Homo sapiens: one gene and its partners. The protein of the gene in region 2 purifies or fractionates together with the protein of the main gene of each other region. This does not show direct contact. Each region holds a gene or a part of one and is shown on either strand. Other genes may lie near its edges.

What was found. Proteins that work in one complex are often made in the same cells at the same time.
Region 1: the proteins of KAT8 (region 2) and PHF20L1 purify together in Homo sapiens (affinity purification with mass spectrometry; 3 studies listed by BioGRID and IntAct, with this or other methods). This does not show direct contact.
Region 3: the proteins of KAT8 (region 2) and KANSL3 purify together in Homo sapiens (affinity purification with mass spectrometry; 2 studies listed by BioGRID and IntAct, with this or other methods). This does not show direct contact.

Annotation. Positions count from the first base shown.
Region 1 is NC_000008.11:132,813,353-132,820,387, forward strand, and holds part of PHF20L1 (PHD finger protein 20-like protein 1), read left to right. Parts: intron 1-1,284; coding exon 1,285-1,537; intron 1,538-3,535; coding exon 3,536-3,724; intron 3,725-3,986; coding exon 3,987-4,193; intron 4,194-7,035.
Region 2 is NC_000016.10:31,127,654-31,131,884, reverse strand, and holds the end of KAT8 (histone acetyltransferase KAT8), read right to left. Parts: intron 3,836-4,231; coding exon 3,746-3,835; intron 1,869-3,745; coding exon 1,728-1,868; intron 1,619-1,727; coding exon 1,525-1,618; intron 1,430-1,524; coding exon 1,279-1,429; intron 1,140-1,278; coding exon 985-1,139; coding exon of another isoform or gene 893-984; exon of another isoform or gene 691-892; coding exon 626-690; 3' UTR 526-625; downstream 1-525.
Region 3 is NC_000002.12:96,607,313-96,614,347, forward strand, and holds part of KANSL3 (KAT8 regulatory NSL complex subunit 3), read right to left. Parts: intron 6,308-7,035; coding exon 6,176-6,307; intron 5,623-6,175; coding exon 5,506-5,622; intron 5,252-5,505; coding exon 5,150-5,251; intron 5,042-5,149; coding exon 4,970-5,041; intron 3,827-4,969; coding exon 3,752-3,826; intron 3,572-3,751; coding exon 3,414-3,571; intron 2,251-3,413; coding exon 2,187-2,250; intron 1,753-2,186; coding exon 1,552-1,752; intron 1,353-1,551; coding exon 1,196-1,352; intron 1-1,195. UniProt on the Homo sapiens protein: Non-catalytic component of the NSL histone acetyltransferase complex, a multiprotein complex that mediates histone H4 acetylation at 'Lys-5'- and 'Lys-8' (H4K5ac and H4K8ac) at transcription start sites and promotes transcription initiation.

The sequences.
Region 1 (7,035 bases), on a different chromosome or scaffold from region 2:
GACACCAGGCCTTTTATGTGGTATGTCCAACATGCTGTCTATAGAGCATTGAAGGTGCCCTACTTAATACCAAATATGCACTTTTCTTCCCCAGCAAAATTTGACTTGTATCTCAGTGGGAACAGAATTATTTATTTATTTAGTCCCCAGAAAATGATCGTTCATATTCCAGAGAACTGCAGACAGCAGACCTGATAGTTATTCTCCACAAGATATGGAAGTAAAAAGATTTCTTGGGGACAAGCATGTTGTTTATAGTGCTAGCAGTCTGATTCTTTATAAAGGCCTATGGTAGAATAGATTTTCAAAAAATGCATATTATATATTTTGCTCTCAGATAAGTATATCAGAAAGAGATAGAAGTATTGCAGAACCATAGATTGCAAATTCATCCAATGTAGTTATTTTCTCTTGTTTTGAAAAATGGACACATTCACACATATTTTAACATATGTAGGAAATTTTACAGCCAAATGAATAAAAATGATCTTTTATGAAAGAACTGACAAAGTTCTAATTTTTTTTTAAAAGTATCAGTTGGCAGGAAGAAGGTAAAAACTCTCATCTAAGAATGCGACGTATTTTGTTTTTAAATCCAATGTTTTTAACTTACACTTTATCTCTTTGGTTTTTTTTTTGTTGTTGTTGCTTGTTTTGTATTGTTTTTTAGTCTTTTAACTCTATATTGCTGGTGGCTCTGATTTCATGATGCATTGTGCTTATGAAACTCTAGCTTTCAGCACTAAAATGAGTTAAAGATAATGTTTTGTTAATTTGGTCATTGTTTTTCCTGTTCAGATCTTTCTTTAAAGGGAATCTGTCTACTTAGACCTTTACATTCAACTTAAAAGAAAAGATTTTATAAGAAAACATCTAAAATCAAAAGCTTAAATGTATTCCTCTAATCCTTTAAAACATGAAAATGCTGTTTATTTTTCGAATTATTGTCATTGGCAATTATGGTTCCTAAAGGGGTATATTTCTATTTAATACTGAAAATATTTGTCCAGTAAGATAACATTTTATGTTCCGAAAATATTATGAATAATATATTTTAAAAAATGAATTTAGACTGAAAGTTGACAGCATCCCTTTAAAGACAGCCTATTCAACTTTTAGTTAATAATTTGTGGGGTTCTTTTTGGTTTTTCATTTGTAATAGAAATGTTATATGTTGCTTAACAATGTTTCTGGATACTAAAGTTGCTTAACAGTCAAAATAGAATACAAGAACAAAAATGAAGAAGCCAAAATAAAAATATCAATTTTTTATTATTTATTCAGGCGATTTCACCTAAACCTCAAAGTCAGAAAAAAAATGAAGCTGACATTAGCAGTTCTGCCAACACTCAGAAACCTGCACTGTTATCCTCAACTTTGTCTTCAGGGAAGGCTCGCAGCAAGAAATGCAAACATGAATCTGGAGATTCTTCTGGGTGTATAAAACCCCCTAAATCACCACTTTCCCCAGAATTAATACAAGTCGAGGATTTGACGCTTGTATCTCAGCTTTCTTCTTCAGTGATAAATAAAACTAGTGAGCACAGATTTTTAAAAAATAGTTATTTATCCTATAAGATACATTAAAAACAGTTTGATTGTAGTTATATTGTATTTTTATGAAGTTGCTTTTTAAAAACTCAAGTGGATATGATAGGGAAGGCTTGAAACTATTTCAGGGGCAAAAACCATAGACATTTCTTACTGATTTATTGCTTAGAGACTACTGCTGGTTGAGAATCCTTTCCATTTAATAACACAGATTCCACTGTAGTTTGACTCTCCTCAACTCATAATCCAAGCATACTGAGAGGCCTGATTCATTACAAAAAAAAAAAGTTATAAAAAGACCCAGGATAGCTATTTTTACTTAAGACTATTCCTGTAGATTTTTTGTCCCCACTTGTCTATAACTTTCCTCTGCAATACATTTTATTCATTCTTATTATAATATTTATAGTCTAGACTTCAGTTTAATCTTTTTAATGAAAAAAAAATGCCCCCATGATTGTATTTTTAAAGATTTTACTGTTTCAGTACTTCTAATTTTTCAAGAGTTAACGCAGTCTTTTTCGAAAACACCTTTCACATGGGTATATCTATCTATCTCCCTATATATCTGTATATATAAATAATACAAGATTTGTGTTGACCCTGAGTTTCTCATATTAGTTTAGTATCCTAAGTTGGAGACATGAATAACAGTTATTTGAAAAGTCAGTTGGTAAATGATGGTTTTTTTTGCTCTTTATGCAAAAAATGAAATACATGATCAGTTGAGTGAATATGACATGTTTCCTTATTCCATATTGTGTCTTCCAGAATAATCAAAGATGTTGGCATTCAGAAGACTTTTATCAAACTTATTAACCTATTTTCCTTCAGTTGCCATATTTTCTACTGAATCATTTTTTCATTTTGATCAGGTTTTGCTTTTTCTTTTTAATAGGTGGAAAGAATGGGAACATAATTCAATTGTTTTCCTAATAAGCTTCATTTCATTATGGCATTTATCATGAAATAGTGTCAGTAGTAGTCACTGGAATGTCATATGACATTAATAAACATTTTATTTTGGAAATTATATCTTGGTATTATAACCACAATATTATAGCAATTAAATTTTATTCTTTCATATTTTTAAGTTATCAGCATGTCTTTTTCGTTTTGATTGTAAAATTACTCTTAAATACCCAAACATCAATGTCTTTAGACTGTTCTTATTTCCTCTTTCTAAATTAACATGAATATATTGGCATATATAATCTTGCCTATTCTAGTCAAATGTGTTTGTATGCCATGTAGAAAGAAGATATCTAAAAGTGTGAGAGACATTTCCAAATATTTATATTATATTGCTAGAAGATGCCTAAATTACTTACCAAGTTGTTAAAAAACACAAGTACACAATGTCATAATCTTAAATATCCTCATTATTTGCTCACAATAAGTATACAAAGTTGTTTTTGTTCATTTTTTTTTTTTAATGAATCAGGCCCAGACATGTTTATAAAACTCCATTTGGGGGGGATGATGATGGGATAAAATTATTTACATTAGTGTAAAGTAAATCACTAACTCTATAATGTTGTATCATCTTTGTCCCTGCCTTTTTTTCCCTTAGAGTTTCTAGATTTGCAATGTAGCAAAAGGAATACATATATATATATTTTTCCTTATCTTTTGCTGTAAAGAGACTATTTTCCCGAAGGAAAAATGGCAATTTACACAACGATCTGCAATTAGAGAAATTAACTGTAGTCTGTCACTTGGGGGAGCTACTTGAAATTAATGTTCCATTTTATTTTCTTTTAGTTCTAGTAGAGTGTAGATTTTACAATTTTTGATTGACTCATTTTGAATGAGGGCACAATTTTTGCCTTTGATTACCTTTGGAACATGCCATTCCTTGTGGATATCTTATAACAACATCAGAGGGAAGAATATAAATCATTTTTTCCCATTTATCTCCTTAAATATTGTAAGATGCTCCTGGTATGTATCTGCTTCGTGAACATTGAAGATCTTTTTCTAGGTCCTCCACAGCCTGTGAATCCCCCTAGACCTTTCAAGCATAGTGAGCGGAGAAGAAGATCTCAGCGTTTAGCCACCTTACCCATGCCTGATGATTCTGTAGAAAAGGTTTCTTCTCCCTCTCCAGCCACTGATGGGAAAGTATTCTCCATCAGTTCTCAAAATCAGCAAGAATCTTCAGTACCAGAGGGTAATGTATATTGATTTCCTATAGAACCAAACATAAAAGAAGATAAAGAAAAAACTAAGAGATAAAGATTATTAAAATATTAAGATATTTCTGCTCTTATATCTTCTGGAGTTATAAGCACTTCACTTATTCTACAAATATTTATTGAGTGCCTTCTTTGTGCCAGGCACTGTTTAAATTATGTAACACTTTAATTCACAGTGATAGTAACTGAGCCATTTTATCTGTGTTAATATTACATTACACTCTTTATTTTGTGTAGTGCCTGATGTTGCACATTTGCCACTTGAGAAGCTGGGACCCTGTCTCCCTCTTGACTTAAGTCGTGGTTCAGAAGTTACAGCACCGGTAGCCTCAGATTCCTCTTACCGTAATGAATGTCCCAGGGCAGAAAAAGAGGATACACAGATGCTTCCAAATCCTTCTTCCAAAGCAATAGCTGATGGAAGAGGAGCTCCAGCAGCAGCAGGTAAAAGAAAAAAAATAAAGGCTCCTATAAGTAGATAAGTAGCTAGGCTTGCAGTTATTAGGTATAAACATTTTGAGGTTTAACTACATTATTTTGATTCCTATATAATTCCTTTTCATAAATACTTTAACATTTATAGGAGAGTTTCATCTCCGTTTTAAAGGTCTTTTGTGTGATCATTTTACAATCATATTCCCTGGACATACATGCTGCTTAACCTTGTCACTTGATCTATTTCCTTCTCCCTGCTTCTTTTTTATATATCCTTATTTCTACTAAATATAAATTATTAGAGCCAAGTATAGTTACAGGAATTCTTACTTTTGAAGCTGGGAAATACTTAATGGGATCAGTACTTTGGTTTAAGGATTTTGATAGAATTTAATATTTAAGAAACACTGAGCTATATGCCTGTATCTTAAATATAATTCCATATTTTGGGGCAGAATCCTCCAAATTGAATTAAATTTGCTGTAAAGTTATTTGAGGAGTGCAATATGTAAAATCAGCCATCCTTAATAACACATTTTTTGCATGATTTTGTGATATTTATTGTAGTTCGAAAGCATTTGGATGTGTATTTTACCAAGCTGATATTTTAAATCTAATAATATCTATTCATGTTTCCCTTATGTGGGTGCATTGTTTTATTTAGAAGTTTTTAAGAATTATAACCTGATCTAGAATACACATAAAATAAAAAGGCCAATACTAGTTACAAATGCACTTCTGGTAAATTACTGTTGGAACTAGATGTTTGAAGGAAGTCTGAATTTAGTTTGTTGTGAGTTGGAGAAAAACATAAGGCAGTTTGTTGATTCGTTACCAAGGGTGTTGGTGATCATTGTGTTTACAGGCGTCTTCCCTGAAACCATTTTATCCATTTTTTGGATGAAGCATAAAATGAAACTTATTCTTTTCTGGTGATGGCATGTATTGAAATAAAATGATTGAAGTAACATAAGAGACATATACTTATTTTTATTAATTTTTATCTTTATATAAAGGTTGAAGTTACTTTGTACATGATAATTCTTTATCATGTTTAAAAAAATAAAACAATACCCAAATGTGAATATTTGTAGATTTTGAAACATTTCCTGTAGTTTCTCAAATCAGATCTATTGTCTTTTGACTCTTGGTCTTTCCTTAAGATAATTAATTTTTCTTTTCCACTTTTCCACAAGATTTCCAAATTGTCATTGACCCATTGAGATACTTTTTTGATAAAGGTCTTATTCGGTTCTTTAACGATCTGGAATTTGTTACCGTACTGAATATATGAAAAATATGTTAAAGTTATAAGGTTGTATATACATTGGGAAAATTATTTTCAAATGTACATGTGAAAATATTTACATTTTTCTTTAAAAGTATTCTAATATTTGTAACAATATTGAAATATAGGCCAATATAAGTAACTGTGTAATAACTAAGAGTCTTACATTAACAGATTATATATCATAAAATATCAATGTAGTGATTGTGCATGGAAGTCCTTGACTTCGATGATTTTGCTTCTAACCAGATTATTAACTTCCTCTTTTCAGAATTTCTAGCATATTTGTGGCAATGTGGCTGACTACCTTAGAGGAAGGCACACGAATATTCTTTCCCTTTTTAAATATTAGCAGTAACTATTGGAAAAGTAAAATAAGTAAGATCGTTTTCTGGGAAAGTAAAAGGTAGAGAGGAGTTTAGCTATAATTTGAATTTGTGGAAGAGTAAGGATTATCTGGATATGATGAGCTTAATAGTACAGTAGCTGTCAACTTTAATTGATTATAGCAAGGAAATGCATAGTTTTAATTGTTAATTACTGAAGATTTATTAGAGGGTTGAACACAGTATTTGAATAGAGGGAGGTGAAATTCTCATTTGTTTCTGTGACCTCTTAATTTTTAGTTTTTGAGGAAAGTAGTGCAATTTAGGTCATGTTCTGACTGAACACCTTTTGATTACAACCTTGTGTGCCTGTCCCACGTGCATTGAAATTCTCGGTGGTCTCTATGCTTTTCTCCTTAACCTTTTTGTTATTCACCCTCTCTTGACTATTTTGCAGTATTTGTTATGCTTCTGTCTGTTCCCCAAGTCCTTTTACATCTAGAGCCAAAGTGCCAGGTTTTTATGTTTTTATTTCTCTGATACATATGTACATATATGCACATACTCATACACACATGTATGTTTTGTTGGTGTCCATATTATAAAAGTAAATTTTCTTACTGTTGAATTTTAAAACTGATAATTGAAAACATTCTTTACAGTTCGTCAGAGACATTTTCTGAGTTATTTTTGTCAAATTGAAACTCTTGGGGAGTTTAGAATGATGAGGGTGTTAGTTGCTAACTGTGAAATTGTTCAACATGGTTAGGTTTTTACTTTTGGGGGAGCAAGATAAATTCACACTGTTGAGTTTAGCATTTGATGCTGAAGGATTGATGAGATTTGCAGATAGTCCAATTATTATATACAACTTTTCTTAATTGTTTTCCAATAGAGATAATGAACTTGCAATAATCTCTCGTATGTTCTTCTGCTGGGGTGGATGCCCACATGTCTAGCCACTGTTAAGAATGCTATTGCTGCCTACATTACCAAACAAGTAATTGGTATCTTTGTAAAAATTGATGCCTTTGTTTTTATTTTACTATCAGGATGCTTTGTCACAGAGCCAGCCAATTTTAGATAAGGATACAGCCTCAGAAAATCTTAATTCTGTTAGTATCTGGGAGGATAGAGTAAATCAAGTTTTTTGAAAAGGGGTCTTTTGAAAAATACTCTTGGTTCAGGTTCTCACAGGCACCTTGGGCCAACAGTTATCTATTGCCCCTTGTCAACA
Region 2 (4,231 bases):
GGGCCCCATCTTGATCTTTGAGCCCATTCTTCTGGGTGTGCTTTTTGGGACCATCACTGAGAGTCAGGAGTTTTACTGCCTGTAGCAATGGCCAGAGCCTCTGGCCCCTCACCCACCATGGACCAGCCCATTGGCCGAGCTCCTGGGGAGCTCCTGGGACCCTTGGCTATGAAAATGAGCCCTGGCTCCCACCTGTTTCTGGAAGACTGCTCCCGGCCCGCCTGCCCAGACTGATGAGCACATCTCTCTGCCCTCTCCCTGTGTTCTGGGCTGGGGCCACCTTTGTGCAGCTTCGAGGACAGGAAAGGCCCCAATCTTGCCCACTGGCCGCTGAGCGCCCCCGAGCCCTGACTCCTGGACTCCGGAGGACTGAGCCCCCACCGGAACTGGGCTGGCGCTTGGATCTGGGGTGGGAGTAACAGGGCAGAAATGATTAAAATGTTTGAGCACAACTTGCCGTGCATGTGTGAAGTGAAATGAAGAACATCCGCTCTTGGCCTCCCCTTCCCCTCCAAAGTCCAGGGCCACCAGAACTGACTTTATTAAAAAAATGACAAAACAGGTCTATACATATTTACAGGCTGGGAGCCAGGAGGCTCAGGTCCGACAGCAGGGGCCAGGCTGCTCACTTCTTGGAGAGCTTGACTTGCTTGTGCTTGGGGGGTGCCCACTTGAGGCAGACGGAGTCCACTGTGGGGAGAAGGGGCGGGAGGCAGGGCTGGGCCTGGGCCAGGCCAGCTCACACCTGGCTGCCCTCCTCTGGGCTCAGGCCAGTTTCACCTCCTCCAGGTGAGAACAAAAGGGCAGGCTGTGCTGGGGAGGGGTAGGGAAGCCCAGGAATGAGAGGCCTGCCCCGGGCTCCATCCTGGGAGCTGGTCTGACTGGTTTGGGATCATGTGACAGCAATAAGGAGGCCTTGACTCCTACCAGTCCATATACTGACACTCCCCCACCGCCCCCGACACACAGCAGCCCCCCACCCACCTGTGATGGGTGGTTTCTTATACTGGGCACTTTTGAGGTGCTCCTCCACCAGCTTGGGTGTGACACAGATCACGTGCTGGCCCTTCCAGTACTTGACCATATTGAGGGATTGCAGGGTACTGATGATGTCATTTTGGGTGATACTGGTCATCTGGCTGCAAAAAGGGATGAGAGCAAATGCCAGACCTGGTGCCCTTGTGGGATCTGGCCAGGATGGTGACAGGGTATGAGGAAGCAGGATCGTGGCCCATCTCAGGGCAAGTCCTGCCCCCAGGGCCCGGGAGGCCCCCTCACCTGAGGTCCTTGATGGACAGTGTGCCCCGGAAGTCCCGCAGGATCTCTAGCAGCACCCAGGACCAGTAGCTGCGGTAGCTGAGCTTGCCCAGGTCAGACAGTGGCTTCTCCGGGGAGCCGACTGTGCTCTCCAGCTTGGAGAGCTCATAACCTGGCAGCAGTAGAAAGAGGAACTTAGGATCCAGCCTGCCCTGGCACCCCTGCCCCACAGGTCTCCCCCTCCCAGACAGGCCAGGAACCACTCACTGAAAGCGATGAGGAACTTCCCGTAGCCGCGGCGTTGGTAGGGGGGCAAGGTCAGGATGCAGGCCACATTGTTTCCATCCGGGGACTCCTTCTCCTGCAGGAGGCAGGTGCTCAGGGCCGCTGGGGAGGCTCTGCCCCACTCTCTGTTCATGCCCACCTTCGCCCTCCCCACCCTCCCCACCCCGAGTTTCCAGACCCAGCACCTTGGAGAAGTAGCCAACAATGTGGGCCCCCTGCCGGTCCACCTCAGTCAGGATGTAAAAGACGAACGGCTCCACGTCAAAGTACAGTGTCTTATGGTCCAGGAAAAGCTTGGCCAGCAGACACAGGTTCTGACAGTAAATCTAGGGTTGAGGAGGGGGGAGACAGGCTCAGGGGGCAGGCACAGGCCCCACCCAGCTGGTTCCAGCGGCCGGCACCAGCCCACGCGAAGTGGGCGCCTCGCCAGGCCAGAAGGATTTCACACTGGAAGGAGTCTTCGGTCAGCCTCTGACGAACAGGGAACTGGAAATGAGAGAGCAACAGCACTTCGGAGGTGCCAGTGGAGCTGGATGAAGCCCGGCCACCCCTTCTGAGTGCCAAATACGAGCTGGGTGCCTTCCATGCAGGATCTGCTTCAGTCTTCACAGACATTAACTCTGTTTCAGCTCGTGAAACTGAGGCTCCGAGGCAGGAATTTAGACCGTCCTGTTCATGGCTGTGTCCCCAGCGCCTAGCACGAGTCTAAGTATGAAGCTGGGTGCCTGGTAAACGTCTGCTGAATGGAGGAACCTCGAGCCCTGTCTGTCCACTTGGCTGCACTCCAGGAGGGGGACAATGGGACCGAGTTTGGCTTCACGGCACACACTAAGGGGCTCCCTGGTTTATGACACCACAGCCACTCTCTCATCCAACCCGGCAGCTGTGCGAGCCCAGCACTGCCAGGCCCATCTTACTCAGGAGGAAGCTGAAGCTCCCAGAGTGGAAGTGCTTGCCCAGAGCCTCAAAGCTGGCAGAGCGCAGTTGGAAAGCACCCCCACATCTCCAGCGGGGGCCCTTCTGCTATTCCACACAGCCATGCTCAGGAAGGCAGAGCAGGGGCAAGGGCTGGGCTCAGCCTGCGTATTCTCCGAGTCCAAGGCTAATCAAGCCCCAAGAGGTCACCGATAATAACAAGGCCCGTGTTTATTAAGCACATACTAGTGCTAAGCACTGCACTAAACACTTGACATTTGCTGTCTCATTTATTCCACTAACAACACAACTAGGTAAATATTAAATATTATGACTCCCGTCTTATGGACAAGGAAACAGGAACAAACCATGTTAAGTAACTTGTCTGTGGTCAGTGAGGAAGTGACAAGGCAACATGAGCCACCCTGAAGCCTGCCCTCTCTGTCCTGTGCTGTATGGCCCATCTGCGGGAAACCAGTACACTTGGCCAGACCCTCCCAGACTGATAAGGCAAAGGCCAAGTTCTCTACAACAGCTAGGCAGGTCCCAAAGGCCCCAACCTGCCCTGCTGAAGTCATTCGGGGCCAGGAACAAGGAACTCAAACCTTGAAAGCCACAGAGCTCTCTCAGGAGGAAATTTCACACAAAGCAGTCCCCTCCCAGGCAAAAACAAACACCTTTCTTTCCAACGGAAGGAGAGAGCACTTCTAAAAGCAGCCTCAGGCAAGAAAATCTCCTCTGGGTTCCAGAACAACCCAAGTTTGAACCTAACCCCACCAGCAGAAGAGTCTTGGGGCCACCACAAGGCCCTGTGTTTCCTATGCACCAACTACAGGCCTAGTGCCAGGCTAGGAGGCCCTCAGAGGCCTTCTTTTTTTTTTTTGAGACAGATTCTCAATCTGACGACCAGGCTGGAGTACAGTGGCACAATCTCAGCTCACTGCAACCTCTGCCTCCCAGGTTCAAGCAATTCTTGTGCCTCAGCCTCCCGAGTAGCTGGGATTACAGGTGCGCACCACCACGCCAGCTAATTTTTTGTATTTTTAGTCGAGGAGTTTCGTCATGTTACCCAGGCTGCTCTCAAACTCCTGAGCTCAGGCAATCTGCCCACCTCAGCCTCCAAAAGTGCTAGGATTACAGGTGTGAGCTGCAGTGCCCGGCCCCTCAGAGGCATTCTGCCCATAGAGGCTCAGCTAAGGCTGCCCCCTCCCCTTTGGTGGTGATGAGGATCATCTGGGAGGTGCCCAGGGCCTCCCCGGCCTCTCCCAACCCCTGGCCACCCACTCACCTTATGGTCTTTGCCATCAACTTCGTACACGGAGATGTTGCTCTTGCGGTAGATCTCTTTCCCGGGGGGCTGCCGCCACTGGCACTGACCCTGGTCGGGGACAAGAGAACAGGTTCGCTGCCCATATGTTCTCTGCTAGGAGGCACCCAACCCACCACTGCATGCTTTGGAGCAAGTCTCTGCCTCTCTGTTTCCCCCCTCAACACTTCACCTACATCGAGTAATCCTCCCAGCAGCCTTAGGAAAGTGATCCTGCTTTTACAGACCAAGGCCCAGGCACAGAGATCCAAACATCACACAGCACGGTGGGGTTTTGAGTCTCTGTGGGCCTGGCTCTGGAGGGACCCGTCCATGACAATGGCTTCCCTAAACCACACCTATTCGCTTCAGATTCCACACTTCGGGAAGCAGCCCACTGTGTCAGTGATGAGAGCGCCCCTTCCTGACAGCCCCCAATTTCATCCACACTTAAGGTCCCACTGCCAG
Region 3 (7,035 bases), on a different chromosome or scaffold from region 2:
ATATATGTTCGCTATTAGTATTCCCCGTTTGCCCATCAGCTCTGCTAAGCCAGGGTTCTAAAGCTGCTACTCTCCCCCATGACACCCTAGATCCCCATTTCAAACCCAGCTCGCCAATCAGCCTTCCAAACTCCTTAGATTCTCAACTAATCACCCTCTGCAGAAGCACAGCAGACCACCAGCTCTGTCTTCTTCAGAAGTGTAAAGACACACTGTCCACACGGGACTTGGCTCTGGCCACCACTCATGAAGATCCATGGCAGAGCATCCGCGCAGACCCTTGGGGCCTGGCCTCATTTCTCAACTCCTCCCATCCACTCACACTTCTACTCCTTGTTAGTACTACTCTTATAAGCAAACTCACAAGAGGTCTGGGTTTCGGTTCTGATCATTTGGCTCCACTAAAAGAAACACAGGGAAAGTAAACAGATGAGCCTCCTATCCCCTCCACGTCTGTCTGCCAGACAGCCAGCTCTGGCTGCTGCCTCTTCCCAGGCACCCCTATTCCTGAAAAGCTCAGGTGACATGCTCCTGGACACATCGTTAAACACCAATGCCCAAGAGGCCTTACCTCAAGGCCACCCAACTGGATCAATGTGGGGGAAGGGGGACAGAACCACTGTTTCTTCTTTCCCTACCCAATGAACTCTCCCTTTTCTATAGCTCCTTTCATAGCACTCGCAGCTCACCAAACTCTTACTTTCGACTATAGGAATACTTCCCAGCTTCATCTGAAACCTGTATGCAGAGAACCCTGATAAACTTCACTGAAAGTCTCAGTGTGAGAATCTTAACGCTTCAAGGGTCAAACAAAGAAAGGGCATGATGCCAGGTGAGTTACCCTAGAATCTGATTAATAAAATCAATCACCCAATACATATGATTGGAGAGCCCCGACTGGAGGAGTGGCTGGCAAGGTAGAAAAAAGTTTAGGCCAATATACATGTTCATAAAGCCTAGCCTCCCCAGAACAGCAAGACAAAGCTATAACTAGTGATCACAAAGCCCCACTAACTCAGAGGCCTTGGCATTCATTTCAATAATTAATTTTGAATTTTGCCTGCACAGAAATGTGAGAAAGGGCGCCTCTCACATCCCCCTGAAAAAAGCCATAGATATCAATACTGTGCAACTGCCATGTGACATGAACTACAGAAGACAGACCCAAGAGGAGCCACTGGCCAAGTGCCTATACCTTGAGCTTGTTTGTGGGTCAGCACAGCTTCTGTCCGCTGCACATGTCTCTTCAGCAGCTGAGAACTTCCAATCTGACTGGACTTCTGGGCAGAGGTCACTGTGGTCACTTTGGTCTTGGGACTGGAGGTGGGGCTGCTGGACACACTGGAGAGATCCTGAGTAAGGTGAGAAGGTCAAGAGATGAGACAATGTTACTAGGATCTGACCATGAGTCAGCATGTCCCTCTGGAATTCCCCTTGTAGGAACTCACAGGCCCATGGCACTAATAAGACAGAGGCATCCCCAGGAAATTAAGGAACCAACTCTGTGGTGCTGATTCCCCAGCAAAAGCGCTCCCTCCCTGCTCACACTACCTCTGAGCCTGAGGGTGAGGCGGGCAGCTTGGCAGCTGGGGAGGCAGGTCGACTGCCCCGCTCAGGGACTTCAAAGGCCAAGTCTCTGCGGGCCACATCGCGGGGCTTCTTCTTCTTCTCAGCATCCTGATCCCGAGGTTCAGAGCCCATGTGACCCTCAGCACGAGTGAGCACTCCAGTCAGAAAGTCCACAATCTCATCCTAGTGTAGAGAGGAGCCAACCAAGGCCTTTTAGTCCTCATCTGGAGAATGGGAACCTCTCATATACTTTCCAACTAAAACAGATTCTCCCTCAGCTCTGGCATCCGCATGTGCCAGTCCTTCCCCACTCAAACAAGGTCTGGCGCAAATCCCAGGCTTCTGAGCAACTGTGGTTCAAGAAGACCAGCAAGTGCCTCTGTCAGGGGGAGCTCTGGGGTGGTCACATTCCACCACTTTTCCAACACTCTCCCCCGTGATGCTTTGCTTACATTAATTCACCACTCTCATTTTTCTTTTCTTTGCTTATGACTGAGACCTACCAGAGGCCCCAGTGGAGGCCTTAGAGCCAAAGAGACCACTACCAATAAGACCAAACCTAAAAGGCTACAGAAAGGCAAGCCTAGCTGAGAAAAGCACACAAAACAACTGTTTACCTGAATACATCTGTCCACCATGCTCTGAGTCAACCCTTCTGATTTCTTCTTTGCTTTGCTTATTCTAAGAAACAAAAAGGATGACATGTTTACTTCTTACACATTGCACGGCATCCTATGAAAATAAGAACGTATTTCTTTTCTGGGTTGTTTATTTTCTAGCCCCAGAAGGAGGGCCATGTTAGCCTTAGGCAGGTAATGCAACCTCTCCGAACCTGTTTCCGTGTCTGCAAAATGGGGAATCATAACATCCCATTCATGGAGTTGTGGGGATTAAACAAAATAACATATGTAAAGAAACCAAGCACAGTGCCCAGGACAGTCCGCTCCAGAATTCCTATACCTATAGCTTAATAGATCAACTCTATCCAGAACTCAGGAGGCGGAGGTTGCAGTGAGCTGAGATTGCACCACTGCAGTCCAGCATAGGCGACAGAGCCAGGCGCCACCTCAAAAAAAAAAAAAAAAAAAAAAAAAAAAAAGCTCAAGGTCGTGAAAGACAAAGATGGAGGAACTCTATCAAATTAAAGGAGACTGAGGAGACATGGCAACTAAATCCAAGTGTGATCCTGGGCTGGATGCTGGACCAGAAAAATGACATTAGGGAAACAACTGATGAAACATGAGTCTGTAAATTACAGTATCATGTAGATGTTAATTTCTTGATTTTGAGAATTACACTTTGGCTATGTAAGATGTTTAACATTTAGAAAATCAGGTGAAGGGTATATAGGAATTGTTTTGTACTAGTGTTATAACTTTTTATAAATCTGAAATTTCAAATATTAAAAAAGGTTTTTTTAATGCTGTCTTTTTTTAATTTTTTTTTTTTTTTGAGACAGAGTCTTGCTCTGTCACCCAGGCTGGAGTGCAGTGGCGGGATCTCGGCTCACTGCAAGCTCCGCCTTCTGGGTTCACACCATTCTCCTGCCTCAGCCTCCCGAGTAGCTGGGACTACAGGCGCCCGACACCAGGCCTGGCTAATTTTTTGTATTTTTAGTAGAGACGGGGTTTCACCGTGTTAGCCAGGATGGTCTCAATCTCCTGACCTCGTGATCCGCCTGCCTCAGCCTCCCAAAGTCCTGGGATTACAGGCGTGAGCCACCGCGCCCGGCTAATGCTGTCTTTTAACTGAACCAGACTGGTCTGTAGTTACATTGCCAGCTTCCAGGCTTATCTCTAACACTGTAACACAGCTCTCTTGCAGCTCTGGGAGAATCCACCCACCTGAGATTGTCATCAGCTCCCCCAACCACCACCAAGCTGTTCTCAGCTCGAATCTTCTCCCGGAAGTCCTCCATGGCTTCAGGGTGACATTGAAGGGAATTCTGACCAATGACAAAGAGGACTGGAGTCTTCATATCCAAGAGGGGATCATCTACATCCTAAAACAGGTATAGGTTTTAGAATCGGCTTCTTCATATTCACAAAGCACTGACCCAGAAACTCCACTAAGGAGGATCAGCCATGCAACTGCAGTCAGCCTCAGCATCAGCTTGGACAAGGCATGCACACTCGCGCTCCCACTGCCAATGACCCAGCACTCAGCTTTACCACATTCTTACCCCTCTGGGGCCATCCACAGTAAGCAGAGGAAACCCAAGGCAGACAACTGCAGTGACATACTCCATTACTGACACCTGTAAATAACAGAACAGTTTGTCTAAACGTCAACTGAGTTCATGGCACCTCAGCCTACCCAGAATCCAGGAGTGGTCCAGACCCACCAGACAGTCTCACCTCTTCCTCTCCTGTCCTAATATCCGGGTGCATCTTCTGCCACAATGGCAGCAGTAAGAGCACAAGACACAAGGTATGTCATTCCATAAGCAGCCACTACCTAGAGAACTGGGGCCCTAAGAGGACCCCAGCAGGTGGCTGAACCATAGGATAGAAGGTTCAGTATTCCTACCCTGTCAACCCCCTCAACTAGAGCCCTCCTGCTCCATTTTTCTCCACAAATAGTAAATATAGTCAAGAGAACACAATGTTGCCATTAACCCTTAAGTGAAAAAAAATTCTCTCTATTGAACTTAATGGATAGCTACCAGACAGCCTAGATTTCTTGGAGCAAACTGCTAAGGCCTAACACCCTGGGAGCAGGGACTATGGGGACCTTCTTCCTCTCATAGCTATCACACTTGATTGGACTGCATGAAGCAAAATTAAGGGTTTGGACATGAGGGACACTTACACAAACTGACAGACATACAAATATATGTAAAATACGAAAAGATTCCTTGATGTCTTGGAAAAAGACTGAAATGAACACAGCATCAAATTCCAGAGCTATTAATATTTGCCAGCTACAATTACTGTTGTTTTTTAGGTGGGAGAACAGTATGGTACTTATGTTTAGAGAAAAAAAGGGATCTTTTTTTTTTTTCCACAGATATATACCCATATGTGTGTGTGTGTGTGTGTGTGTGTGTGTGTGTGTATGTGAAAATGCTATTATATTTGGGATTTTCTTCAAAACAATCTAGGGGAGAAAGAAAATGAGCAGGGTGAGATGAAACAAGCCCAGCCAAGAGTTGATCACTGGTAAAGCTGGGTGAGGATCCGGGGGTTTATTATACTACACCTGCTTTTGTTTCTGCTTAAAGTTTTCCAAAATAAATTAAAAATTGTTTTAATAAAATTTGTCTTCTACAGTTTAAAATGTAATTATATAGGTAAAGTATCTAGCGCAGAGCCTGACACACAGTAAAGGACTCAATGGTAGCTATGATTAGTGGTATTCCATCCCAGGACAACCTCCAAATAAGATAGAAATTACTTACATGACAGGCCACCAAAGCTCCTGTGTTCCAGCCAATCAAGATAATGGGTTTGTGTGGGAAATGGCTGTGAATCTTCATGGGAAGAGAAAGAAGACAGTAAGACAGGAGGCCAAAGATAGGTGCAGAACAACCCCAGAATGCTGGGTATGCCACAATGTACTGAAATACGGGCATTCTCACCTCCAGCACTTTGCTTCTCACTGCCCCAATCATATGCTCGAGACACTGTAGAACTCCTACCCCACTGCCATTGTTCAGCAGATGGGTGGCTACAGGGATGACCTGAAGGAAAGAAGTAGCCCCCACACCAGCAGAGGTAAGTTTCAAATCTTTCAATTCTGTTTAACCTAACCTAAACCCAAAACCTTGGAATTCCACATGAAAGAAGGATTAGAGGAGGCTCCACATGAAAGAAGGGTTAGAGGAGGCTCCACATTCAAGTTACCCATTTTGACCTCCTCCCACATATTCTTCTCCTCAATCCTCCAAGACTATATTCCCTGCCAGGAAGGAGTTCCTCTTGCCCCCACACATACCTTGCCCAAGCAGGACAGCTGAGATTGCCAGAAGCGGTGGCGGCGTGAAGTGGGAAACACAGAGCTGGAGGGACCAGAGGAGGCGATGAGAATCAGCGGAGAGCCAGGGAGTTTGCTCTAAAGAGGAAGAATCCCACCCAAAAACCAGTGAGTGAGAAGTGTCCTTTCATGAAATTCCAAGTATCCCAATACCTTTCTCATCCCAACCAATGCTCCTTTGCTTGTGAAATTATGTTAAGCACTATGTAAAATAAATTATTAATAATAGTTAAAGAAGCTGGCCAGTCATGCTGGCTCACACCTGCAATCCCAGCACTTTGGGAGGCCAAGGCAAGTGGATCACCTGAGATTAGGAGTTTGAGACCAGCCTGGCCAACATGGTGAAATCCTGTCACTACTGAAAATTAGCTGGGCATGGTGGTGCATGCCTGTAATCTCAGCTCCTCAGGAGTCTGAGGCAGGAGAATTGCCTGAACCCAGGAGGTGGAGGTTGCAGTAAGCTGAGATCGTGCCACTGCACTCTAGCCTGGGTAACAGAGCAAGATTCTGTCTCAAAAAATAATAATAATAATAAATAGTTAAAGAAGCCATTTATCCTCCTGCCAAGGTTCTAAGGCTTGAGTCTAAAATTTTTATGTACCATTGTTAAGTCCTGAGCCATCCAACTTACTGGTTTGTTATGAGAAAGCACACCCACAGCAGGGTCCCAGGGCCTCTTCAGTAGGAGAGACAAGGCCTCAGCTCCTGCAGCCCCAGTCTTTGTGTTGGATGACACAAGCATCCGGTCAATCAAGGTTGGGATCTACAAAGAAGAAAGAGCAAAGATGACTCCAGTGTAAAGCAGGAGACCTTCCACCACCAGCAATCAAGCAGAAGAACAGAGCCCCACTATAAGCCATAGACAGACTTCAACTAAGCCTCTGAAAACCTCCTAAGGATCAAGAATATATATAAATAAGCGGGTGAAAAGTATGCTCCCACCATGAAAAGTGAATGTGTACAATCCTTTGGAAAGCAGTCTGGATATGCAGCAAGGGACTTAAATGTATTCCCATCCCTTTTCCAAATGTTTCTACTTCTGAGAACCTTTCCAAAGAAAACGTATCAGAAACAAAAACACACACAAAAGGATGGGGACAATTATGCACAGAGACAAATTAACTATGAATAATAATAAAGTAAAAACAATTTAATATATATGTGCATATGTAAGGGAGTAGTTTAGTCAACTATCTACCTAATTGGATATTAAAGATTATTTTCGAATATTTACAAGAATTTATTTATTTATTGAGACAAAGTCTCGCTCTGTCGCCCAGGCTAGAGTGCAGTGGCCTGATCTTGGCTCACTGCCACCTCTGCCTCCCGGGTTCAAGCGATTTCTTGTTTCTCAGCCTCCCAAGTAGCTGAGATTACAGGCGTGCACCACCATACCCAGCTAATTTTTTGTATTTCTAGTAGAGATGGAGTTTCACCATATTGGTCAGGATGGTCTTGAACTCCTGACCTCAAATGATCCACCCGCCTCAG